Homo sapiens: one gene and its partners. The protein of the gene in region 2 interacts with the protein of the main gene of each other region in a biochemical or structural test. Each region holds a gene or a part of one and is shown on either strand. Other genes may lie near its edges. The genes, in order: CASK, PTH1R, FRMPD1, PDLIM1, MAGI1, TJP3 and LDB3.

Region 1 (3,500 bases), on a different chromosome or scaffold from region 2:
CACAAGCACTGTAGCACTCATCCTCAGTGGCTTTATACGTCCTCTGAGAAGCACACAGGCAGGCATCATTCTTGCCATCATTCCGATGGTGAAATCCCTGCATGCAGAACTCATTGACTTCTCAAAGATGTTACCTGTTCCATTCCACTAATACATGTCTTCTCTAAAGCAGTGTCTTTATGACCTAGCTGCATATACTTACATTTCTGAATTCAGAGTAATTTCAGTACATTGCTGCTGCTGCTGCTGCTGCTGCTGCTGCTGCTGCTGCTGCTGCTGCTGCTACTGCTACATTACAATTGTCCACTAAGCAATCAGAGAAAATTGCTAAAAGCTTCTTTACTGCTTCCATTCCATCAGCAGAACCTTTTTTTTTCTTTCTTTCTTTTAAAGACCAGAATGAATGTTTAGAGTACTAAATCTTATTAGTGGTCAATTGAAGTATTGGAGAGCCACATTTTGAAGGTTCTCTCCCCCACCCAACTCCATTCCCCACAGCAAGAAAGGGAGTGTTTTTATATGTTGAATTCTTTGTTAAAAAGATGAAATGTCCTGATTTTCCAGTCACAAGACAGTAATTACTTTGCACATACAGCATATCCCATTTTAATGCTAAAAAGGGAAATGTCACTCAATTTAATTCATCTGGAAGTTTCCCAGTGTCAAGATAACATTGTAGCCTTTTTAAATGCAATTAAATGTATCTCTTGTCAGGTGAGATGATTTAAAATCTTTGCTCAGAGAGGAAAACAAATGGTTGACCTACTTCTTGCTATTTGCATTCAGAAGGCATCGTCCCAGCCCATCCTATTGGTGGCAGAATATCTAAAGATGTCGCAAAGTCCCCCACTGCAGTAGAAATGCAGGAGGTGTTCCTGTTCCCCGTCCAATTCCTTCTTAGGCTGCTAGAGACAGCCAGTGGGCCAAGCCTTCCCCTGTGCTCCAGGCAGGCCTGGGCTGCAGCTACTGTTACCTTTTTACAGCCTTTGATCTGATCGCTGCAGAGTTCTTTTGTTTTTAAATCACTTGTATTTGTCTCTTCATTAAGGCTTCAAGTTTATTTCTTGAAAAAGTTTAGTCAATTGAACCACCCTCCAGGAAGATTCCCAGCGTGGAAACTGCCCCTGAAAAACAAGGCAGCCCAAAGCCAGCTCTCTTTTGTCCCCCACTGATGTCATGTCCTTTTTTTTTTTCATTTCAGGCCAGTTTCTTAACTTGGGGCAAAGAGAATGTGTTGCTAAAGCTACCAAGAAAACTGCTTGATTAACAAATTCTTAATAGAAATGCCTCCCACACTGTCTCTTTGAAAAGAGAAGGCACCTTGGAATCGGCATTCCAAAACCAAGCTCCTTGTCATCCTCATCCCTCCTCCTTCTTGCTTCCTATTATCAAACTCGTGTGTGTTTCTTGTTTTCTCAGAACTGAACACAGCCTCCTAATTCCATCCTCTTGACTAGGGCTTACAATACTGAGAGCGATTACAGGCTGTAATAAGTTAAAGGTCCCTGAGCGTGGCTTTCTTGTTCTGCGCCTCTAATTAATTCTTCTATTAAAAGATGCTTTCCTTCTCACTGCAGCTTACAGAAAGGCTACAAGCTTTAATCACAGATCATTTCATTTGCCAGAGCCTTTCCTTTTCTAACTCCTTTAGAAATAAGATTTCCCTCTCTGTTTGGAATCTCTGGATACAGGACTCTCCTCCAAGCTCATGGCTTGATTGGCTTTGCCTGTGCACACACACATCAGTTTGCCTTAAACTTGGAGCTATGGGGAGTCCCAGATTTTCCAGCTTAGTGGGTGAAGTTTAGCTGTCACCTACATCCAGGAAGTGGGGGAAAAGGGAAAAAAAGAGGATATTCACCACCATGTTCCCATCCGGTCTTTCCCCTGCCTTGCTTTGTGCAGCAGGTGGGCAGACAGAGCCCACAGAAACAGAAGTAGAAAGAGGGCCGCACCATCTCTGGGGCCAGCACTCCTAAGTCTTAGCTCTTTGTGGGAATAGAAAATCCTGAGCTCCCACCACCTCTCGTCTGACCCTCCATCAACTCCCTCGAACCTGTGCAAATGGACTGAGCAAAAGAAAATGGAAAGAGATGTTTGTCACCACACAGGAGACCTCCTTTCTGGCCCCAAGCACAACTCCATCTCTGCGTATGCTCAGAAACTCAGAATTTAGCTGCTACTTATGTGTTAGCTCCATTCTCTCTGGTGTGTGACTGAGAGAACACGCCAGTGTTCTTACTGACAGAGGCTTAGGGGTGACCCTCTCTGGACCCAGAGGAAGTACAACCTCTGTAGCGAGAATTGTCCTTGGGAACAGAAACAGGCATTCCTCCACAGTGAGTGGCTCCCCCTATTTTTTTTTTATTTGGAAGAGACCAAGAATTGGGGGAATTGATTTCCAGTCTTAGCTGTTTCCCGGAATGTCATCTGTGCAGGCAGGTAGGCGGCTGCCGGGTGCAGCAGGCAGCGTGACTGATGTGAAGGCCGCCCAATCCTCACGTGCTAAGACCCGAGTATCGTGTTTAATTGCAGTGTAGGCACGTCGCCATTCAAACTCAGTTCTGGGGTGGTTTTGCATAAAGTTTTGCCAACGTGTTCTTTTTTCTGTATGTATTATTGCCTTTTTATAAAAGGTGTTGAAGTATTGTCTCAGTGATAAAAAGAGAGAGATGTTAATGGTTGTTGTATATTTCACCGTATCCAATTGTAAGTATTTGCAGGGTACAGCAGAGCCTTAGCTTGCAAGAGCGTTTGTGCAGGAGGTGTCCCTCAACACCCAGGAGCTGAAGGGATTGGAAAGGTTTGGATTCTTTGTAAATGTCCTGCTTTTCTTTCTCTCTGTGTGTATCTATTTACATGCCTTAGCACACGCCCTCCCATCCTGATCCCTTTGCCCTGTCGCCGGAACAACCAGAATGCTGGTGCGCTGCCGGCACAGTACAAGTTGATGAAACCCTAATCAGTTATCTTGTGTGACAGGGGAAGAAGAGAAACTCCATAGTATTCCTTGTAGAATATACATACCTGTAGGATGCTGTGTAATGGGAAACCATAGAATTGGGCTTTTGTCATTTCAAAGTTGGAGAAATGTATGAATAAAATGTATAAAACATGAAAAGGCAGTTGTCTCCTCAGATTGCAGGCCAAACAGCTTGGGGACAAACAACAGAGGGTTAAAAGAAGAGGGATGGCCTGATTTCTAAAGGCCTCTGCAGAGTTCATCCACACAGTTAGGCCTCAGACACCTTCCCACAATGGTTGGGGTGGGGTGGGGGTGTTGCAGAGGGACAGCTCCTGGCCCTGTAAAGGAGCACGACCCAGGCTCCTGGTGCCCATCCTGCAGGTTTCAGTCTTCAGCCATGGCTGTTAACAGACGGCATCCTGCAAGCAGTTCCAGCTCAGTTGCTTGCATTTGGATGCAGGCTTAAAATAGCTTCATCTTAAAAAAAAAAGAAAAAAGAAAAAGTCTAAGTTGTGACATCTCCTAGAAATAGAAG
Region 2 (3,500 bases):
GGTCAGTCTCCTTCAGGGAACTCCATCCCTTCTCCATGCCACACCACACCCACCTCCTTGGGGAAACAGCTTCTACCCTGGGTGAAGCCAGACGTGTGCATGTGTGTGTGTGAGGGCTGGAGGGGGCCCCTAAATCCTACCCCCTGCCTGGATGATTCTGACCTCAGACCTACATTCCCTGTGTCCGGGACTGCAACAAAACTTGCAGAAAACAGAGGTCCCCAAAGCAAAGTCTGTGGGAGTACGCAGCAGGGCCAAAGCCCAGCCTTCTGTTGGGTCACACTGTCATCTTCCAGGGAGAAACAGCCATGGTGCTCACAGAAGCAGAGGATGGTGAAAACTCAACCACAAATTGCCAGATTTGGGACCCCAAACGAGGCTTCAGAAATAGGGAGGCTTCAGGCAGCTGGAACCCACAGTCCAGACATCCCAGAGACAGCAGGCACCCAGGATCCTGGATCAGAGGGGACTCTCACCCAAAGTTCGAACTACTGGGGGAACTCAAGACTGCGTGCCTTAGACCTATCCCGCGGACCCTAGGGTAAGCCCGCAGCCTGTCCCGGAGTGTTGGCGGCGGGGGACTCACCAGCGCGTACGCGGAGCTGAGCACGGGGCAGCAGAGCAGGAGCGCCAGGCCGGGTGCGATCCGGGCGGTCCCCATCGCCACCGCCTAGGGCCGCGTCCCTCGGGGCAGCCGCCGCCGCCGGCCCTGGTGGTGGTAGGGGGTGCAGAGCTGCGTCAGGCTGGCCGCCCCGCCCACGCCCCGGCCTATGGGACCCCGGCGTCCCGGCGGCCCGAGGCCCCGGGGCCCGGCGCGGGGCCCATGCGCTGAGGGCGAGCGAGCGAGCGAGCGAGCGAGCAGCGCAAAGGAGGGAGGGAGGGAGGGACAGGAGGGAGGGAGGGAGAGCCGGAGGCCGGGCGGGCGGCGGGCGGGCGCCGAGCGCTGCGGAGCGGCCCGTCTGCCTCGGAGCGAAGAAATCACATCCATATGGCCGGGCCCCCCGCCCCCGGCCCGCCCCCCGCCCCCCTCCCGCGCCGCCTTTTCTTTCTTTCTTTCTTTCTTTCTTTCTTTTTTTTTCTTTTGGGGAAATGGGAGCTGTGGCTTCGCCCCACGCCCAGTGGGGGGAGGGGGCGGGGGAGGGGTCGGGGTCGCGGTCTGCGGGGGGCGCGCAGGACTGTTATTTTTAGCTCCGCGACTTTCGGCGTAGGGAGTCAGGGCCGGGCAGGGGGCGCGTTCTGAGCCGCGCGGGGCGTGCAGTTAGGGGGTGCGATCTCAACTTTGCAGCCACACTGAGCCCTTAGGTGTTCCGGCCGCCAGCCCCCGGCCGTTCGGCCTCCTGAGATCCCAGACCCTCGGCAGCCGCCTCCCGCACCCCTTCCCCATCCTTGGCCAGAGCCCCGCTTGCGCCTGTGCGGCTCGGGCGCGCAGCGGCCCCGACGCTCTGTCGGTCTGCCTGTCTGTCAGTCCGTCTCTAGCTCCCCCGGCCTTGGCCTCAGTTCTTCCAGCGGCCCCAAGCTCCGTTTCGGTCACTCCCTCGCTCCCTCCCTCCCCCTTTTCTCTCTACGAAAACATTTGCAAGTTTCCAAAAAAGCCACCGAGCCGAGCGGCGCGGGGCTGGCGACTCCCCCGGGTTCCGAGGAGGCGCCGCCGACTGACACCGAGACAGAGCAGCCTGGCTGCTCCGGCCAGGCCCGGAGTCGCTCCTCCCCGACTCCGGCCACTTCCCCTCGGCGCGGGTCCCCAGCCCCGACTTACTCCGAGCGCGCCGCCGCGGCCCCCGCCTTGCCATGGATGTCGGGGCCCCCCCGACAGCCTCCCCAAGCCAGCGCCCCGTCCGCGGCCCCGGGGGGACTTCATGGAGCTCTCGGGATACCCCCCGCTGGCCGGCCTGGCCTCCAGCGCCCCCCGCCCGGCCGCCGCTCGGAGCCACCGCCCGCCGCGCGCATCCCTCGCCTCGGCGTCTGCCGCTCCCCTTCTCCCCGGCCGGGCGCCTCTTCCCTCCCCCGCGCCCTCCCGGGCCTCTCCCGCCCCCACCCCCTCCGCAGCCGCCGACGCGGGAGTGTGGAGAGGCCGAGAGGAGCCTTCCGCCCCCCGCCCCGGGACATTGCGCTAGAGGCCGAGGCCCGGAGTCTTACGGCGGCGGGATGTGAGTGCTGGGGAGACGGGGCGGGGGCAGCTGTAACATCGAGACCCGAGCAGGGAACCCGGGACGCCGCCGCCGCTTCATTCTCTTCTGGAAAGCACGGGCTTTTAAATTTTTTTTCCCTTGATCATCCGGCCCCCGCTGGCGAATAGAGACCCTGAGCCGAGAAGCGAGCCCTCTTTCATCATGGGCGAATCCCCTGAGGAGGCTGCCCGGTACCCCCGCGCGCCCCCGGCCGCGACGCTGTCAGTCCACTGGGCTCCCGTTCGGGCCGGGTCGGGGTCCCTGGGGAGGCCGCTCGGCTGCCAGCCCCGAGCCCGGCTTGGCTGCTGCCGCCCTCCCCCACGTCCAGCCCCACCCTCGCCTCGTCCCCTGCCCTCAGTCCCATCCCAGGCCTGTCGTTCCTCTCGGCCCTAGGCCAGCCCCGACCCCCGCCCAGGTCTGCAGCCACACATCCCGCTCCCTCCCTGCCCAGCGTCTCTTCGGGTCCGGGTCTCCGAGTCTCGACCCATTCAGCTGCTGGCCGGGCCTCTCCAGCTTGCCCAGCCCCAACCCCGGAGGCTCGAGGCTGCCAGACCTGGGGCTCAATCCAGACACCCACTCTCAGGCTTCACCTCCCTCCCCCGTTCCCACCCCCACTCCCAAAAGCTATCGGCCGGCTCGGACCGGGCCGCCTGGGACCCTCGACTTAGGGGAAGGCAAGGAGGAGTCCGCGGGGGTTGGGGCTGAACGGGGCGGGATTTCTGTGTTTGGCTGGGGAGGGCACGCTGGAGCTCTAAGAGGAGGGGCCCTTCGACCCCAAACCTACCACCTCCCGGTACCAAGTGGGGAAACTGAGGCAGAGGGAGGGGCTGGGGATGCCTGGAGCGCAGGGCTTTAAGGATCGCGGAGGAAGCGAATGCATGAGGCCCTGGGAAATGAGTCTGGGCTAAGCAACAGCCTGTGCTTGCCCGCTTACCAGTTGTGTGTCCTGGACACTACCACTCTTCGGCTGTCTGGACCTCAGTTTCCTCATCTGCAAAATGGAGAGGTTGGCCAGCTGATTCAAGGGCAATGTTAACTTTACTGTTTAGTTTCCACGAGGGTGGGCATCCTGGCCCATGGGCTCCAGGGGCTCTCAAGACTCAGCCTGTGGATATTGAGCTCCTCGGAGCCTGCAAACCTGCCCTCCAACCCTCAGTGCAAATCTGTCAAGCCCAAGTCCTAAGGCCTAGGATCCAGCTGCAGCCACCCTTCTGCTGGCTCAAGCCCATCCAGCTTCCAGACTGCACTCCCAGGTGCATTCCCCATGTATTTCTTCTGCTGCTACTTTCTTCTTCTTTCTTCTCCTTCTCCTTCTTCTTCTTCTTCAAGACA
Region 3 (3,500 bases), on a different chromosome or scaffold from region 2:
GATTAATAGTATCTCCCTTACCCATCGCAGGTGGTAGAAAGGGAGGAGTCACATGACTACCGCTGCCTCTTCAGGGTCTGTTTTGTTCCCAAGGACCCCCTGGACCTCCTGAAAGAAGACCCCGTGGCCTTTGAATACCTCTATCTGCAGGTGACTGGGTCTGTGCTTCCTAAAATAACAGTGGTTGTTCTCAAAGATGGTGCACTGGGTGATTTTGAACGTGAGCTCGAGGCCATTAAACAACTCCCTGGTAGGGATTCTCTTTATCTGAAGGAGAATGGGCCTGATCATCGCTCAGAATTCCCTTTTCCATCACTGAGTTGCTGTTTTAGCAGGTGTGCGATATCAGAATGAAATTCAGGCTCAGTCCTCAATGTAGATGATACATTTTCTAATACCATTTTAGGATCTTTAGAATTACAGTTTTTATTGCCAAAAGGGGCCTTAGTGCTTTAAAACCTCGTTTTAGAATGATGACACTGAGTCTTGGAAAGGTCGTGTGATTTGCCTGGGTCACTCACTTAGTGGCAGAGCCAAAACCTGGTTCTTGATCCGTGGCCTGGTGCTCCCCCTATTCTACCTCCTTAGATGAGAGTTATGATGCCATTTTTATTCTGATGAAAAATAATCATTTGGAGCCGGGTGCGGTAGCTCACGCCTGTAATGTCAGCATTTTAGGAGGCCGAGGCAGGTGGACCACTTGAGGTCAGGAGTTTGAGAACAGCTTGGCCAACATGGTGAAACCCCGTCTCTACCAAAAATACAAAAAATTAGCCAGCCGTGGTGGCACACACCTACAGTTCCAGCTGCTTGAGAGGCTGTGGCAGGAGAATCACTTGAACCTTGGAGGTGGTGTTTGCATTGAGCCAAGATCATGCCACTGCACTCCAGCCTGGGTGACAGAGCGGGATTCTGTCTCCAGAAAAGAAAAAAAAAAAGAAAAAGAATCATTTGGCAGATATCACCATTTTACAGATGAGATAACTCAGACTAGGTGGATTGGACTGCCCCAAGTCTTACAGAAATGGTGGCAGAAAATAATAATAATAGCAATAACAACGCCATCAATACTTTATATTTGTATAACACTGTGTGCCTTATACCTGCTTTCATATGCATTATCTAATTTAAGTCTCACAGAAACCACATAAGGTAGATTTTACTATCCTCATTTACCAGACACCAAATGCTTGGAGAGTCTTGGTAACTTAACCAAGGTCACACAGCCAAGAACTGTCAGAGCCAGCTCTCAAAGCGGAGCTCCTGGTCCTGCTGCCTTTCACCCGAGAGAACGAGGGGACACAGTATGTCTGCTTTTGTTTCCCATCTGCTCTATTTAATCTCTTCTAGAGCTGCAGCGATGTGCTCCAGGAGCGCTTTGCTGTAGAAATGAAATGTAGCTCTGCACTCCGACTCGCGGCTCTGCACATCCAGGAACGGATCTACGCCTGTGCCCAGCCACAGAAGATCTCTTTAAAGTATATAGAGTGAGTGGCAGGGGATGGCAGCTGCATTGCATTTATAACTTGCTGGCCCCTGGCCAGGAGGGCCAGATGCCACAGAAAGCTGATAGTCACCCACCTACCCATCTGTCTGTTGTCTTTCCATCCATTTCCCTCTGCACCCTCTCTAATCTGACCTGGCTCCCCCAGATGTCTGAACCTGGCTGCTCTCTCTGGGACAGAAGCCAACTCCAGATGGAATGTCACAGGATTCCCTTGTAAATTGCCTGTTCCTGGGAAGATGTCTTGGGAAATCAGTTGCCAGCATCAGTGTTAAGCTTTTCTAGGGGTGGGAATGCCTTGGAAGTTAATTTTTCCCGTGGATATGAACCAGTTCCTATTGCATTATGTCTCCACTAGAGCAGTTTCAAGTCCTACGATTCCAGCACCTTCTGATTCTTAGCTTAGAATTGTTCTGGACAGCATCACTCAGGTTTGCTAAGCCCCTCCCCAGATCTCAGCTCTGTCCTGCCTGAGCATCAGAATCAGATGGGGAATCATATTTTTAAAAATACAGCATATCCTTGGCCCTACCCCTGATGTACTAAGTCCAATCTCTCGCAGCAGGGCCTGAGAATCTGTAGTTTTAGCAATTTTCTGGGGGATTTTGAAGCTGCTAGGCTGGCACCATGCTGAAGCTTAGCCTAGGGGATTCACAGGAGCTCTGCGTTGCCCCATGAGAGTGTCTTGTACTCTCTTGTATGCTGTCATTATTTGCCATGTATTTTGTAGTGAAAAAGATTCAGAACTCCTGCTCTGACTGATAGATGGTCACACCACACCAAGAGTAATGAGCTCCCAGAATGATCAATGGGGTTTAGTTCCTGAATGCCTGTGGGGATTTTTGTGGAGAGTGTGTGTATGTGTGTGTGAGAAAGAAAAAGAGAGGAGGAGAAAGTGGCTCGTAATTGCTGTATTATGGGAACACTAAGTACTGAATCAAATGTAATTATGCTCTTCATTAGAGCCAAGTACCCTGTAGAAATGGGCCTCCTTGTCTCCAATGTCTCATGGCAGGAAAGACTGGGGAATAGAGAACTTTATATCTCCAACTTTACTCCGAAACATGAAAGGCAAAGACATCAAGAAAGCCATTAGCTTCCACATGAAGAGGAACCAGAATTTGCTGGAACCCCGACAGAAGGTAATGAAGGTGCCTCTGCCGACCCACTCAGCTGTCGTCTGTGAAACCTTAGGAAAAACATTTTCAACACTGCCTGGATTTTAGACCAATGAATAACTCTGACTTCAAGTGTTTTTTTTTCTCTATTAAGCAACTTATTTCTGCTGCCCAGCTACGTTTAAATTATCTACAGATCCTCGGAGAACTCAAGACATATGGTGGAAGAATCTTTAATGCTACTTTAATGGTATGTATTAGAGAACTGTGAAATCCTACTCACGTAAGGGACCTTAGAGATCCTCTGAAAATCAATGTGTCTTTTAGCCTAAAATTCCTGAGGACTCTGTCATGTACTAGAATTTGTCTGGTAAACTAAATAGTACACCACTGGAAAATATTTACCACGCGTTTGCTTGGTGCTACCCCTGTGATAGATGCTAGGGGAAGCAGGGCTGAATAAGATGTGATTTCCGTCCTTGAAGGATGAAACAAGCTACCCAACAAAATGAAGCAAAGCCATGAGACAGGTTCAGGCCTATTGCTGTGGAGTTTGGAGACAGAAGGTAGCACTGCTTGCTTCAGGGTAAGTATAGGGAGGAGAAGGGGTTAAGGAAAGAGGCAAGAGGAAGCCTGAATTTGGCCAGACTTCAGTAGAGAGGAAAAGGCATTCTGGGTCAGAAGGGGATGGTAAGCAGTTCACTCTGGAGCTTTGGGTATATGAAGGTGAAGAGGAAAATTGGAAATCATGAAAGAAAAATAAGAGTGTTTGACTGCCAAGCTGAGTCTCTGATTGTTCAGAAGGGAGGAATGAGGGGTGGGCCTGAGAAGAGAAACGAGAAGCAGAAAAGCCCTCTGCTCTCTTCCCATTCTCCTGC
Region 4 (3,500 bases), on a different chromosome or scaffold from region 2:
ACCCATACCTTTTTAAAGCTTCCCAGAAAATGTTAATGCTCATCAGGTTTGGAAACACCAAGAGAGATGATGACTATGACTATCTTTTCCCCTTAAACTCTCTCCCTGAATGAAGTTAAAGTCATCAGGTAGACAAAAAGTAATTAGACCCTAAAATCTCAGCTCCTCCAGAAACACCTTCAAGGGCAGAACTTATACTCCTATAAAATACATACAAAGCCCTTGAAAGGAATATCCATTAGAATAGTATTCCTCTATCTCTTACCAAAACAGACTTAAAAAAAAAAAAATAGGCCAGGCAGGGATGGCTCATGCCTATAATCCCAGTACTTTGGGAGGCCACAGCAGGAAGACTGCTTAAGCCCAGGATCTTGAAACTAGTCCGGGCAACACAGTGGGACCCTGTCTGAACAAGAAATTAAAAATTAGCCAGGCATGTAGTCCCAGCTACTCAAGGAGACTGAGGTGGAAGGATCGCTTAAACTGGGAGGAAGTGGAGGCTGCAGTTAGCTATGATAGCACCACTACACTCCAGCTTGGGCAATAGAGCAGGATGCTGTCTCAAACAAAACACAAACAAAAAAATACAGCCCCTGTAATGTTGGTTAACACCCCTGAAAATGCTATGCAAATGAAGCATTGCATAAGTAATTTTGTTGTTTTTTTTAAATAGAGATGGGGTCTCACTGTGTTGGCCAAGGTGGTCTTGAACTCCTGGCCTCAAGCAATCCTCACACCTCGGCCTTCCAAAGTGCTAGTTTCACAGGCATGAGCCACTGCGTCCAACCAGTAGAAGTATAATAACTCCAAACAAGATATCTAAATAACTCGACGTGGGTCCTATTTTCCCTTGGCCAGAAAACTCACAGCTAAATGTAGTGTGCAATTACAGAACCAACTGATTTAAAGTTCCTGGCACTTCTCTCTCTTTCCTCTTCCATGTTCCAATTTTTTGTTAAATCTTATATGTGTTCTTGTGTTTTAAATATTGTAAATGTGTAACTAAGTGAAAGACAAGCCTAAGACAAGCCTGCAAGTAAGTGAAAGAGACAGCCTAAATAACGATAGTAATAATTATATACAACTGGGATAAAGAAATGTGAGATTCAAGTTCAATCGCAATGCTACATGCCTTTAAGCATAATCTCCGCTGATTTAACAGTTGTGTCAAGGTATTTGGGTACAAATTTAACAGATTCTAAACTGGGGATAAAGCAGGACCCAGCTCTGTAGGATGCCATTTACATGTGGAATTTGAACTCTCTTTAGTCAGAATCTTCTGACTCAGTATGTTTGTGAGCCGAGGCTGTGGCACAGACTTCACAGCCATATTATGGCTGCAGAAGCTGTATGCATTTACACAGGGTGACCTGAAAACATAACACTGTTTTAAAATGTTCTTGGTTAGTCTATAACCATTTTCTCAGGGAAATGAGGCAATAAAATAGGGTAGATGCTTGTAGATAAGTTGCACCTTAATCCAGCTTCACACTATGCATGGTGCAAAAAGAAGTTATTAGTGCTAAGGGGTGACAGTTCAAAGAGACGTGCTGCTCTCTCAGTCTGAAAGACCGACCACCATTTCTCAGACAGGAATATAATAAAACAGGTAGCCAAATAGAATACTCTGACTAAATTCTTAAGAAGTCATCGAGGCCAGGCGTGGTGGCTCATGCCGGTAATCCCAGCACTTTGGGAGGCCGAGATGGGCGGATCACTTGAAGTCAGGAGTTCAAGGCCAGCCTGTTCACCAACATGGTGAAACCCCATCTCTACTAAAAATACAAAAAATTAGCCAGGTGTGATGGCGCACGCTTGTAATCTCAGCTACTTGGGAGGCTGAGGTGGGAGGATCACTTGAACCCAGGAGATGGAGGTTGCAATGAGCCGAGATCATGCCACTGCACTCCAGCCCAGGCGACAGAGCGAGACTCCGTCAAGAAGTCGTCGAGTTCCTCAAAAGTTTCCAAACAAGCTCCTATGAACCCTACGTGCTTTTAAATAGCTCCAACAGCTACCACCCATAACCCAAAGCCTAAACACTCACTAAACCTTGAGGGAATTACTCTCTCTGACTCAGTATCTTCATTTATCAAATGAAATTTATAATGCATCAACCTCATCAGGTTGCTGGAAGGCTTAAATGAGACTGCATTTGTAAAGAGTTCAGAACAATGCCTGGCACGTAATAAACACTCAATATATAGTAGCTACCATTAATATTTTTAATATTTAATAGTTTAATAGTACCACTAGGCTCTCTCTATATATCATCTTAATCCTCACCACAACCTTTGAAGACAAGCGCTATTATTCCCACATTGCAAATGAGGACACTGAATTTTCAGGGGTTAACCTGTCCAAGAACATACAAGCTAGTAAATGGACAAGATAAGGTTTGAACTAGATCTAGCAGATATCAAAAATGTATTTTTCCCTTGACATTAAGATGTCTTTAATTCTTGATTTGTTACAGTAAAAATAAGGCAGAAAGCACAAAGCAATGAAGTCCCAATAGTTCACTGAGATATAGTAATTTGGTTTTAGAAATGCTACGTGTGCGGAAAAAGTCTGGAAAGGTTTGCAGCCAGCTGTTCACTGTGTTTACCTCTGTAAAGTAAGACTGGGGAAGCCTTTTACCTTATGCTTTCTGTAGGTTTATATTGTCCGATCTTTTAAACAATTACGCGGGCTTCTATGTAACCTTTACTGAAGGATGACATGTATACAGCACAAATGGTAACGATACAGCTGATTGAATTCTCACATACAGAGCACACCCAAGGAAACAGCATGGGATAAAGAAGAGGACATTACCTGAACTGCTAAACCTCCCTGTGCCCGCCTTCCGTCACTGACCTTCCGGCAAAGGTCTGCCATGATCCTGACTGCTAACACTGTAGATTAATTCTGTCTAATTTTATGTAACTGGAATCACACAGTATTTACTCTTCACTCTTAGGTATGGCCTTTTTCTCTGTGTGTGTGTGTGTGTGTGTGTGTGTGTGTGTGTCTCCTTCATGTCACTGTGCATAGTTGTAATTTCTTCACTCTTGTTGCTGTGATGTTTTATACCATATAATTACACCCACTACTTATCTATTCTATTGCTGTTAGACATGTGAATCGTTTCAAATTTGGGGCTATTATGAATAGTGTTGCTTGGAAAATTCTCAAACTTGTCCTTTAGCACTCATGTGGACCCAGTTTCTATTGACTATTTAACTAGGAGAACTGTTGGGTTATATGGTATGGGTATGCTCAGCTTCAGAAGCATAAGTATTTTTTATTATTTTTTTAAAGAAATGGGTGCAAACTATTTGCTGCATCAACCATATTTAATCTATCTGTATGCATTTTTTTTTTCTAGATGGAGTTTCGCTCTTGTTGCCCAGGCTGGAGTGCAGTGGCGTGATTTCAACTCACTGCAACCTCCGCCTCCCAAGTTAGAGCAATTCTCCTGCCTCAGCCTCTTGAGTAGCTGGAACTACAGGTGCCTG
Region 5 (3,500 bases), about 19 Mb from region 2:
CAATATATTCCGGATTTTTCATATAAATGTTATAAAATGTAACACCATTAATGAGAAGATGGCATTGGGAATTAAGAAGAGAGAATGCAAACATATTTAAAATCAAGGAGTATAGTCAGGTGTGGTGGCTCATGCCTGTAATCCTAGCACTTCGGGAGGCCGAGGCAGGTGGATCCCTTGAGCGCGGGAGTTCGAGACCAGCATGGGTAACATGGAGAAATCATTTCTACTGAAAATACAAAAATCAGCCGGGAGTGGTGGCATGCACCTATAGTCTCAGCTACTTGGGGGGCTAAGGCAGGAAGATCGCTTGAAACTAGGAGGTTGAGGCTGCAGTGAGCTGAGATGGCACCACTGCACTCCAGCCTGGGTGACAAAGTGAGACCCTGTCTCAAAAATAAAAATAAAAAATAAAATCAAGGAGTACGTTTCTATAATCAGTTGTTTGCTGGCTTAGGCGAATTCATTACAATATGGTTCTAATACATGTGTAAGTTAGTTGGCTATAATGAAACTTTATGTTTGGTCTCCTTAGAAGTGAATCTAATGGGATAATAAACCACATCAATAACAGAAATGAGAAAGAGGATAGATGAGTTAGGAGAACAAGGTGGTTTGTGTCTGTCAAATGAGCAGTGGCTGAATCAGAGGTGCACCTGATGTACCAAGAATTATTTGAAAGTTTCCAGGCTGTCAGCCTCAGTATTAAGCAACTATACAAAAATCAGTGTTATTCAGTTAAGTAGGGCAGAACATTGGACTGGAAACCACAGAGCCAGGGTGAACAGCTCAGAACTACTGTGGGGTGGCACCTTCCTACCTCACAGGGAAGTGACAAATATCAGTGGAGAGGCACGTGCAGGTATGAAAGTGCTTTGTGTATCACTGATTCTTCTATAAGTGCCAGGTTTCATCATCACCATCATCATTATTGTCATAATCGTTCTTATACCCAAGTCATTTCCTACTACATACATCTTGGCTACTGTTTAAAACCAGTTCTCTGAGCAGTCAAGTGATCTAGGTACAAGAAGAGACTTGAAAATTAGTTGGTGGAAATGACATTTTAAAAAAAATAAAATTTGCACAATGCCTTTTATAACTGCCTAAGCCAGGCTCATTGAGCATTTCAATTCACATAGACAGCTACTCTGTATTTTGGGTTTCCTTCAAATGACCCCAGCCATTCTGATCGCAGAACACACAGGTTCATGAAAACATGAGAATCTGGCTGCTGTGACACAAATGAGCTCTCCTGTTGCAACAAACCAAAAGGAAGTCAAAGTCTGGTTCTTGATCTCTTTTCAAAAGGCCTGAATATGTTGTTCATGAAACAAATCATGGTAGCAAGGATCAGGGAAACAGCCATTCTCAGGCCCACTGTGTAAAACTATCAGTCACGACTAATCACATATAAGTATATATTCCAGGAGCAAGACACTTCAATATGGTGGAAAGTATTGCTCAGTGTGACGTCCTGTGTTTTCTGGTGAGGCAGAGGGTGGGATACGGACTCAAGGAGAAAGGAGGAAGCTTAATGCCTCGAGATTTAGAATAACCCAGATCTCTGAGATCCTAAACTACTAAACGCGAGCATGTGGAGGGAAGTGTTTAATATGATTAGCAGACCTCTTGTTTCTGCCAAATAGAAATAATCACATACCTATTCACTTAATACCTATTCATTCATAAATACCTAAAAGGAGTCAGGTGTTGTGTTAAATGCTGGGGATAACAGCTGTCCACATGCACACATGGGCCCTGGCTTTATGGAGCTTTATATTCTAATGAAAGACAAATAATGAAAAATAAATAAAAGCATGAAATAACGTCTTGTGCTAAAAAGGTGATGATGATCAAGGTTATGAAAAACTGTGATAAAGATTATATGGAAGTGTTGGGAGCTACTTTAGATAAAGTGATGGGAGAAGCCCTCTCTCATAAGGAGACCTGAATGGGACTGAGCCAGCTGGGAAGAGCTGGGAAAGGACCATTCCAGGCAGAACGGACAGTAAATACAAAGGGCCTGAGGCAAGAAAAGGCTTGAAGCATTAAAGGAGCTCCATAAAAGCAGCCAGTGTGGCTAAAGCACCATCAGATGGAGGAGAGGAACATGAGACAAGTTTGGAGTGACCATAGCCACATTTTGCAGGCTATGCAGGCCAAGTTCAGGAGATTTAAAGGATAAAGGTTATTATTTTTTATATATATATAAAAAAACTTTTTAGAGAATGGGGTCTCAATATGTTGCCCAGTCTGGACTCAAATGCCTGGGCTCAAGTGATCTTCCTGCCTCAGCCTCTCAAGCAGCCAGGACTACAGGTGGGTACCACCACACCCAACTTAGGTTTTTAAATCTTAACATTTTAAAAAGGCAAAATCTGATTTCTGTTTTAAGGTATCATTCTAACTGCATATGTCTGTCATAATGTATAAACCACAATTTTTATGCTAAAGAGGTTAGTATTTGGAGAAATCAGTAGGCATTTTGAAACATTTAAATAAATTTAAAAAGCCCCCAGTGGTCATCTGAAGATGAGTAAGTTAAGCAATGAATTTGGGATAAAAAAAAAATTCAAAGAACAAAACAACCCTACTTACCTCCTCGTTGCACCAACAATGTGACCTCACTTCCCTTAGGACACTCAACCAGCATATCCACCACTTGGTTGTGAGTTAGGGCCTGCACGTTCTTCTTATTAACTTCCACTATGAGATCCCCTTCTTTCAGGCCTCGGCACCTTGGGCTGTCAACAATCTGTTTCACTCTTTGGCCACCCCCACCAGGACTGTCTGCGATAGTAAAACCAAAGCCCATTGGCCCTTTGACAATATGAACAGTTATGAGTTCTGGCTGAGTGGCTATGGAGGAAGCCAAAGAAACAGTGTCATTAGGATAACCATGAGAACTATTTGAAGCCACGTCCGCTGGGCTGCTTGGCCTGGCATCCTTCATGCCATTGACTTTGCCTGTTTTACTACTGTGGCTAGCTGGTGAATCATAGGTCTCTTGCCCATTCACAATAATTGGTTCTTTATCCAAAATGGCTACCGAGGTCACTAAACTTGTATTGGGGTCATCTGGATCAAAAGGCAATGGATAACCTCGGCAGAGTTCAAGGTCCACGCTGGCACCAATGGGGATGGACTGGAAGATCTTCACAACTTGAGCATGTGTGTGTCCCAAAACACAGGTGTCATTCACACTTACAATCACATCCCCTGTAGAAGGCAAGAGTGTGGGGGTTAAGAAAACAGCACCCAGAAAATTGTCATCAGTATTATAATATCTCCCACTAACATAAAGCTGAACTGAAACTGCATGTGGGTGTGATACTATAGGGTATAAAGTGCTTCTATTACTGATTTTAACAGCTAATAAAGTGTTCTTTCAGCACCTAGTGTCTTCCCTGCTAATGAGAATGTAATAATCACTCACAGAACATTGGAGCTTTCTCCTAAAAAAAAATCTCACTGCAGAAATCCAAGTTTAGAATTCA
Region 6 (3,500 bases), on a different chromosome or scaffold from region 2:
ACGGGGTTTCACCATGTTGGCCAGGCTGGTCTCAAACTCCTGAACTCAGGTGATCCGCCCACTTCAGCCTCGCAAAGTGCTGGGATGACGGGTGTGAGTCACTGTGCCTGGCCTGGTTTCTCCTCTCCACGTGCCCTCCCCCGCCAGAACCCAGCTGCCTGGATACTCACTGTAGCCTGCCCTCCGCCGGCCCTCCAGGTACCACGTCAGATACAACCATGGATCCACCGGGCCGGTCTCGGCCTCCAGAGATCGCAATGCCAAAGCCCCGGCGGGGGTCCTGAGAGAGGATGAGGGGAAGGAAGAGCTGCTGTTTCCCCCAGGGTAAAGGGTCTCCCCTCTATTGAGCTGGGCCTAAGCCGCCATACTCTCTGGCACCCAGACAGGGAGAGGGAGGCCTCACCTTGGACAGTGTGGCCGTGTGCTGTTCCCAGATGGTCAGCTCCTCCATGTCAGCCACCTGGTCGAGGGGAGCGGGGAAGATGGGCATGAGGCCACACAGGTTCATCTGAGCACTTGGGGGTCCCCAGCTCAGGGTGGGGAGTCCAGCTCTGACAGGCCTGTGTTTGGAGCCTGTGACAAGTTACTACCTCTCTCAGGGCCTCAGGTTTTTTTGTTTGTTTTTTTGTTTTGTTTCATTTTTTGAGACAGAGTCTGGCTCTGTCGCCCAGGCTGGAGTGCAGTGGCACGATCTCAGCTCACTGCAACCTCCACCTCCCGGGTTCAAGCGATTCTCCTGCCTCAGCCTCCCAGGTAGCTGGGATTACAGGGGTGCACCACCACACCTGGCTAATCTTTATATTTTTAATAGAGATAGGGTTTCACCACATTGGCCAGACTGGCCTTTAACTTCTGGCCTCAAGTGATCCACCCACCTCGGCCTCCCAAAGTGCTGGGATTACAGGGGTGAGTCACTGTGCCCAGCCTTGTTTTGTTTTTTTTGAGGCGGAGTCTCATTCTGTTGCCCAGGCTGGAGTGCAGTGGCACAATCTCTGCTCACTGCAGTCTCTGCCTCCCAAGTTCAAGTGATTCTCCTGCCTCAGCCTCCTGAGTAGCTGGCTGCCTACTGGCCTCCTGAGTAGCTGGGCTCCTGAGTAGCTGGGCACCTACAGGTGCCCACCACCACGCCAGGCTAATTTTTCTATTTTTAGTAGAGACGGGATTTCACCATGTTGGCCAGGCTGGTCTCAAACTCCTGACCTCAACTGATCCACCCACAGAGGGCAGAGATTTTTGTCTTTGTCCAAAACTGAGCCCTCAGTTCCCTGCCTAGAACAGCGCCTGAGTTGCAGCAGGGATTCAAGAAGGATTTGCTGAATGAATTAATGAGTGAATGAATGAAACACTTCCTTTGTGCCAGGTGCTTTACATGTACTATCTCTTTTTTTTTTTTTTTTTTTGAGACAGAGTTTCGCTCTTGTTGCCCAGGCTGGAGTGCAATGGCGTGATCTTGGCTCACTGCAACCTCCGCCTTCCAGGTTCAAGTGATTCTCCTGCCTCAGCATCCCAAGTATCTGGGACTACAGGCATGTGCCACCATGCCCAGCTAATTTTTTTGAATTTTTAGTAGAGACGGGGTTTCACTATGTTGGCCAGGCTGGTCTCGAACTCCTGATCTTGTGATCCACCCCCTTGGCCTTCCAAAGTGCTGGGATTACAGGCATGAGCCACCGCGCCCAGCCTTACATGTACTATCTCATTTAATACATTCATCAAAGGTGCATTCAATTATCCCCATGTTACAGATGAGGAAACTGAGGCACAGAGCCATGAAGTCCCCCCTCCCACACTTTTTTTTTTTTAGACAGGGTCTCTGTCACTCAGGCTGGAGTGCAGTGGTGTGATCACGGTTCAATGCAGCCTCGAACTCCCAGGCTCAAGTGATCCTCCCACCTCTGCCTCCCAAGTAACTGGGACCACAGGCACACATCACGATGCCCGGCTAATTTTTTTTATTGTTTGTAGAGATGGAGTCTCTCTGTGTTGCCAAGGCTGGTCTCAAACTCCTAGGCTCAAGTGATTCTCCAGCCTTGGCCTCCCAAAGTGCTGGGATTACAAGTGTGAGCCATTATGGCTCACTGCAGCCTCGAACTCCTGGCTTCAAGCAATCCTCCTGCCCCAGCCTCCTGAGTAACTGGGACTATAGGTGCATACCATCATGCCCAGCTAATTTTTTAACTTCTATTTTTATAGAGACAGGAGGGTCTTGCTGTGTTGCCCAGACTCTTCTTGAACTCCTGGGCTCAAATGATCCTCCCACCTGGGCTTTCCCACTTAGAAAAAAAAAAAACAAAAAAAACTCTGTTGCTGAGGCTGGAGTGCAATGGTGCCAACTTGGCTCACTGCAACCTCTGCCTCCTAGTTTCAAGCGATTCTCCTGCCTCAGCCTCCCAAGTAGCTGGGATCACAGGTGTCTACCACCATGCCCAGCTAATTTTTGTATTTTTAATAGAGACGGGGGTCTCACCATGTTGGCCAGGCTGATCTTGAACTCCTGACTTCAAGTGATCCGCCCGCCTTGGCCTCCCAAAGTGCTGGGATTACAGGCGTGAGCCTCCACACCAGGCAGATTCTGTTATTTTCATGTCCATGGCATGAATGAGAACACCAGACTCAGGTGCAAGGTCACCTGGCCACGCCTCCACCCTCCCTTCCCTCCTGCCAGCACGCACCATGCCCTGCTCCCCAGGCAGGGGACAGGTGGAGGGAGTGGGGAGGGAGTTTGTAGAAGTGACTCCTCCTCCTCCCCGGGGCGGGTTTTCTAGGCTTGGCACAGCGGGTGTGTGATTCCCTCTGCCCAGGCACCCCCCATTGGTGCGCTCCAGTGCCTTTTCTTATAAGCTCCAGCGTCTCTAGCGAGGCCAGCATTCCTGATCTCCAGGAGTGGGAAGGCGGGTGGAGGGGAGAGAAACAGAGCAGAGGGCAGGGCTCTGCAGTTCTGAAGGAGCCAGGGCAGCGCTCAGGACTGGACTCAAATCCCAAGTCTGCCCACCCGTGCTAGCTATGGCGGGGCCTCTCCCAGCCTCAGTCTCCCCATCTGTGAAATGGCACTGCTGCCCTGTCTTGCAGGGATGTGGTTTGGGAAAAGGGTACAGATTCAATGCCTGAAAAGCAAAAAGCAGAAGGAGCCTTGGGGAGGTGGTGGCCAAATAATGACTTTCTCCTTGTGTAGTTTTTTTTTTTTTTTTTGAGATGGGGTTTTTTGCTCTTGTTGCCCAGGCTGGAGTGCAATGGCGTAGTCTCGGCTCACTGCAACCTCCACCTCCTGGGTTCAAGTTATTCTCCTGACTCAGCCTCCCGAGTAGCTGGGATTATAGGCACCCACAACCACAGCCAGCTACTTTTTGTATTTTTAGTAGAGACGGGGTTTCACCATGTTGGTCAGGCTGTCTTGAACCTGGCTGCAAGCAGGCGCTTGATGTGGACCCATTCATTTCATCCTCAGAGTGACCTTAGGAAGTGGCACAGTTATTATTCCTACTTTAGAGGTGAGATTAAAA
Region 7 (3,500 bases), on a different chromosome or scaffold from region 2:
TGTATTTTTAGTAGAGACAGGGTTTCACCATATTGGCCAGGCTGATCTCGAACTCCTGACCTTGTGATCCACCCACCTTGGCCTCCCAAAGTGCTGGGATTACAGGCGTGAGCCACCACGCCCAGCAGATGCCTGCAAATTTTTAAGAGACAGAGTCTCCCTCTGTCACCCACGCTGGAGTTCAGTGGTGAGCGATCATAGTTTATTGTAACCTCAAACTCCTAGGCTGGAGTGACCCTCTCACCTGCCTCCTGAGTAGCTAGAACTACAGCCATGCACCACCACACCCTGCCAAATATTTTTATTTTTGTAGAAACAGGGTCTGGGCTCCTTTGCCTGGGCTGGCCTCAAACTCCTGGCCTCAAGCAATTCTCCTACCTCAGCCTCCCAAAGTGCTGGGATTATAGGCATGAGCCACCATGTCCAACAGCCTCCAAACCTTAATGGCTCAGAACAACAAAAGTTTCTCATTCATGCAACGTCCAATACAGTGCTCCTTAATCATCTCTCCTCCTCTCCATGCCCTGCATTCAGTCAGTCAACAAGCAGAGAGTGTGCAGGATCACAAGGATGGTTGCTAGAGGCAGACCTGGAAGGAGCATACATTGCTTCCACCCTCATTCAGTTGGCCAGAGCTAGTCCCAAGGCTGCAGTCAGACACAAAGCTCTAAGCAATGTGGTAGTCATGTGCCGGAAAGAGGAACTAGGCTTGGTTAGCAGCTGGTACTGGCCGTAGCGAATGAAAAACACAATGACGGCTTCTGTTGAATACTCCCGGGTGACTCTTCCCCAAGGACTGGCCTTTCCTCAGGACCACCTTCCTTATGCTCACCCCCCACCTCCACTATCCAATCAGATCACACCAGGCAGCAAGGCAGCCCAGTCCCAGCTCAGCCAGGGTGACCTCGTGGTGGCCATTGACGGCGTCAACACAGACACCATGACCCACCTGGAAGCCCAGAACAAGATCAAGTCTGCCAGCTACAACTTGAGCCTCACCCTGCAGAAGTAGGTGGGAGCTCTCCAGAGCAGGGGGCGGAGGTTTGGGTGTGGGCATGGGGCAGGGGCCAAAAGAGGGATTGTCCCATAGCAATTGAGTGGGCCCCGCCCTGGGCTACAAAACTGTGCAGGAAGATAAGGACAGCCCTGGGCCAGAGGAATGAACAGGCCCAAGTCGCTGTCAAGCACCTAGAGGCAGACATTACTGCCTCACTTTACAGTTAAGGCAGAGATGGTGGTCCTGGTGCTGCCCGTACGTGGGCCATTGGTCCTGGAAGGCAGGTCTTACCTACTTCCACTTTGCCCAGGCAGCCCCCAGTGACGTAGCAGGGGCCCATGGATTCTGACCAAAATGCCCAGGGGCCATGATTTCTCCATCCTCGTCGGGCCCAGGGCCTTCTTGGGGAGATCCAGCCCATGGGGTGGACAGTGGATCTGGGGCCCTCTGACTCAGCTATCTCTGAGAGCTGACTCTGGCTCTCTCTTGCTCTCTCCTCACCAGCCCTGCCCAGGCAGGAGCTTCTGGCCCCAGGGGCAACTTCCTCACCTGGTCTCATTTCTGGTTTCTACAGATCAAAGCGTCCCATTCCCATCTCCACGACAGCACCTCCAGTCCAGACCCCTCTGCCGGTGATCCCTCACCAGAAGGTAGGTGCTGACTGTGGCGGCGGGGTCCACTCAGCCCTGGTTCCTGGAGTGCTGGCCCTGGCCAGCCTGCCTGGTCTTTGGCTGGCCCAACTGGGATGAGGCCGTGGGATCAGCCCTGCCCCATCCCTGCCCCTGCTGCAGCTGACCCTGGGGAAGTGAGGCAGCCCCTTGGGAGAGACTTTCAAGCCCCTGTTGAACACTGGATGTGGGAATGAATGCCTGCCTGGGTGCAAGCCACCTCCGCTATGCCTCGTGGCTGGGCTGATAGGAAGCCAGCTTGGGCAGCAGTGTTCCCAGGAGAGGGGTCACCCTCCTGGCCAGGCAGGGGACGAGCGTCCAGGCTCTGACCTTCATTTGCCAAGGGGGCCACCGCTGGGTGACTGTGGCTGAGGCCCAGCTTGACGAGGACCTCCAGGTGTGGAGGGGCCTGCTGGCCTCACCCAGATCTCTCCCTCTGGTTTCCACTTCCCCACCTGCCCCTCCCAAGTGCATTCCCCTGTAGCCCTTAGGACGTGCTGGCAATGGCAGGCACAGGGGAGAAGGGAGGCCAAGCCCTGGCTCCAGACCTCACCACTGCCTAGGCCCTTCCCAAGGCCCCGCCAAGCAGCTCAACCCCCGAGGGCTCCCTGCTCAACTTCTCCCCCTATGTGAACTGATAGTGACCCCACCTGTCCAATGGGGCAGATTGGGCAGGGCAGTGGGGAGAGGGGAGAAAAAGAGGCTGACAGGGGTGGGGTAGGTCACAGACTGGGGAAGTGGGTGGAGGGCTGCTTGGGAGATGCTTGCAGAGGTAGACTGAGGGGCCCAAATGTGAGCTACCCAATTCCTCAGCTTCCCTCCTCACCTCCCCACCACCTGCCCACAACCAGCCCAGGAACTTCATCTCACTGGCAGTGTGGGGTCAGTGGAGCAGGAGGCTGGGCTGTGCCCACTGGGCACCCACTCTCAGGGGCAGGGGGAACAGACACAGAACGGGCCATCCCCTGACCCCTACACCCACTTCCTCGGGCCCTGGGGGCAGGAAGCTTGGCTTGGCTTCCATGCAGGGCTTGGCACTCTGCCCAGCTGGATGCCAGCCTCACGCCAGGCCAGGAGCCATGTGCCTGCCTGCTCCTCCACCAGTGTCCTCCCCTCCAAGTGCTGCGCCCAGGCGCTCTGGGCTTCAGGCTGCGGGGCTCGCGCTAACACATCTGTTTCAGGTCCACGCAGGAGCGCTGGGACGCGTGTGGCCTCTAACCGCTCTCTTCTCTCTCCCCTGCATGGCCTGCCCTGTGCCAGGACCCCGCTCTGGACACGAACGGCAGCCTGGTGGCACCCAGCCCCAGCCCTGAGGCGAGGGCCAGCCCAGGCACCCCAGGCACCCCGGAGCTCAGGCCCACCTTTAGCCCTGCCTTCTCCCGGCCCTCCGCCTTCTCCTCACTCGCCGAGGCCTCTGACCCTGGCCCTCCGCGGGCCAGCCTGAGGGCCAAGACCAGCCCAGAGGGGGCCCGGGACCTACTCGGCCCAAAAGCCCTGCCGGGCTCGAGCCAGCCGAGGCAATATAACAACCCCATTGGCCTGTACTCGGCAGAGACCCTGAGGGAGATGGCTCAGATGTACCAGATGAGCCTCCGAGGGAAGGCCTCGGGTGTCGGACTCCCAGGAGGGTAGGTAACGGACATACAGCTCTCCACAGGTGGCCTGGGCCACCTGGGTCCTCGGTGCTCGGCAGAGACCTGGTCAGGTGGTCAGAGCGAGGCACTGGCCCCAATCCAGCCAGCCCCGAGCCCATGAGGTCAGCAGTGATCCTGCGGCATTTGCCATGAGCCGGGCATGCTAGCGATTTATACAACCAACCACGCTGGGGTGACATG

What was found.
Region 1: the proteins of PTH1R (region 2) and CASK interact in a test that uses a peptide from one of them, tested with the Homo sapiens proteins (one large-scale study listed by IntAct).
Region 3: the proteins of PTH1R (region 2) and FRMPD1 interact in a test that uses a peptide from one of them, tested with the Homo sapiens proteins (one large-scale study listed by IntAct).
Region 4: the proteins of PTH1R (region 2) and PDLIM1 interact in a test that uses a peptide from one of them, tested with the Homo sapiens proteins (one large-scale study listed by IntAct).
Region 5: the proteins of PTH1R (region 2) and MAGI1 interact in a test that uses a peptide from one of them, tested with the Homo sapiens proteins (one large-scale study listed by IntAct).
Region 6: the proteins of PTH1R (region 2) and TJP3 interact in a test that uses a peptide from one of them, tested with the Homo sapiens proteins (one large-scale study listed by IntAct).
Region 7: the proteins of PTH1R (region 2) and LDB3 interact in a test that uses a peptide from one of them, tested with the Homo sapiens proteins (one large-scale study listed by IntAct).

The regions. Positions count from the first base shown.
Region 1 is NC_000023.11:41,514,555-41,518,054, reverse strand, and holds the end of CASK (peripheral plasma membrane protein CASK), read left to right. Parts: 3' UTR 1-3,121; downstream 3,122-3,500. UniProt on the Homo sapiens protein: Multidomain scaffolding Mg(2+)-independent protein kinase that catalyzes the phosphotransfer from ATP to proteins such as NRXN1, and plays a role in synaptic transmembrane protein anchoring and ion channel trafficking.
Region 2 is NC_000003.12:46,880,721-46,884,220, reverse strand, and holds part of PTH1R (parathyroid hormone/parathyroid hormone-related peptide receptor precursor), read right to left. Parts: intron 3,160-3,500; coding exon of another isoform or gene 3,103-3,159; intron 2,227-3,102; exon of another isoform or gene 2,039-2,226; intron 1,973-2,038; exon of another isoform or gene 1,757-1,972; intron 710-1,756; 5' UTR 662-709; coding exon 587-661; intron 1-586.
Region 3 is NC_000009.12:37,730,954-37,734,453, forward strand, and holds part of FRMPD1 (FERM and PDZ domain-containing protein 1), read left to right. Parts: intron 1-30; coding exon 31-150; intron 151-1,350; coding exon 1,351-1,487; intron 1,488-2,519; coding exon 2,520-2,646; intron 2,647-2,776; coding exon 2,777-2,872; intron 2,873-3,500. UniProt on the Homo sapiens protein: Stabilizes membrane-bound GPSM1, and thereby promotes its interaction with GNAI1.
Region 4 is NC_000010.11:95,281,004-95,284,503, forward strand, and holds part of PDLIM1 (PDZ and LIM domain protein 1), read right to left. Parts: intron 1-3,500. UniProt on the Homo sapiens protein: Cytoskeletal protein that may act as an adapter that brings other proteins (like kinases) to the cytoskeleton. Involved in assembly, disassembly and directioning of stress fibers in fibroblasts.
Region 5 is NC_000003.12:65,426,919-65,430,418, forward strand, and holds part of MAGI1 (membrane-associated guanylate kinase, WW and PDZ domain-containing protein 1), read right to left. Parts: intron 3,223-3,500; coding exon 2,602-3,222; intron 1-2,601. UniProt on the Homo sapiens protein: Plays a role in coupling actin fibers to cell junctions in endothelial cells, via its interaction with AMOTL2 and CDH5. May regulate acid-induced ASIC3 currents by modulating its expression at the cell surface.
Region 6 is NC_000019.10:3,725,384-3,728,883, reverse strand, and holds part of TJP3 (tight junction protein ZO-3), read right to left. Parts: intron 461-3,500; coding exon of another isoform or gene 452-460; coding exon 404-451; intron 281-403; coding exon 171-280; intron 1-170. UniProt on the Homo sapiens protein: TJP1, TJP2, and TJP3 are closely related scaffolding proteins that link tight junction (TJ) transmembrane proteins such as claudins, junctional adhesion molecules, and occludin to the actin cytoskeleton.
Region 7 is NC_000010.11:86,678,511-86,682,010, forward strand, and holds part of LDB3 (LIM domain-binding protein 3), read left to right. Parts: intron 1-856; coding exon 857-1,008; intron 1,009-1,571; coding exon 1,572-1,647; intron 1,648-2,925; coding exon 2,926-3,293; intron 3,294-3,500. UniProt on the Homo sapiens protein: May function as an adapter in striated muscle to couple protein kinase C-mediated signaling via its LIM domains to the cytoskeleton.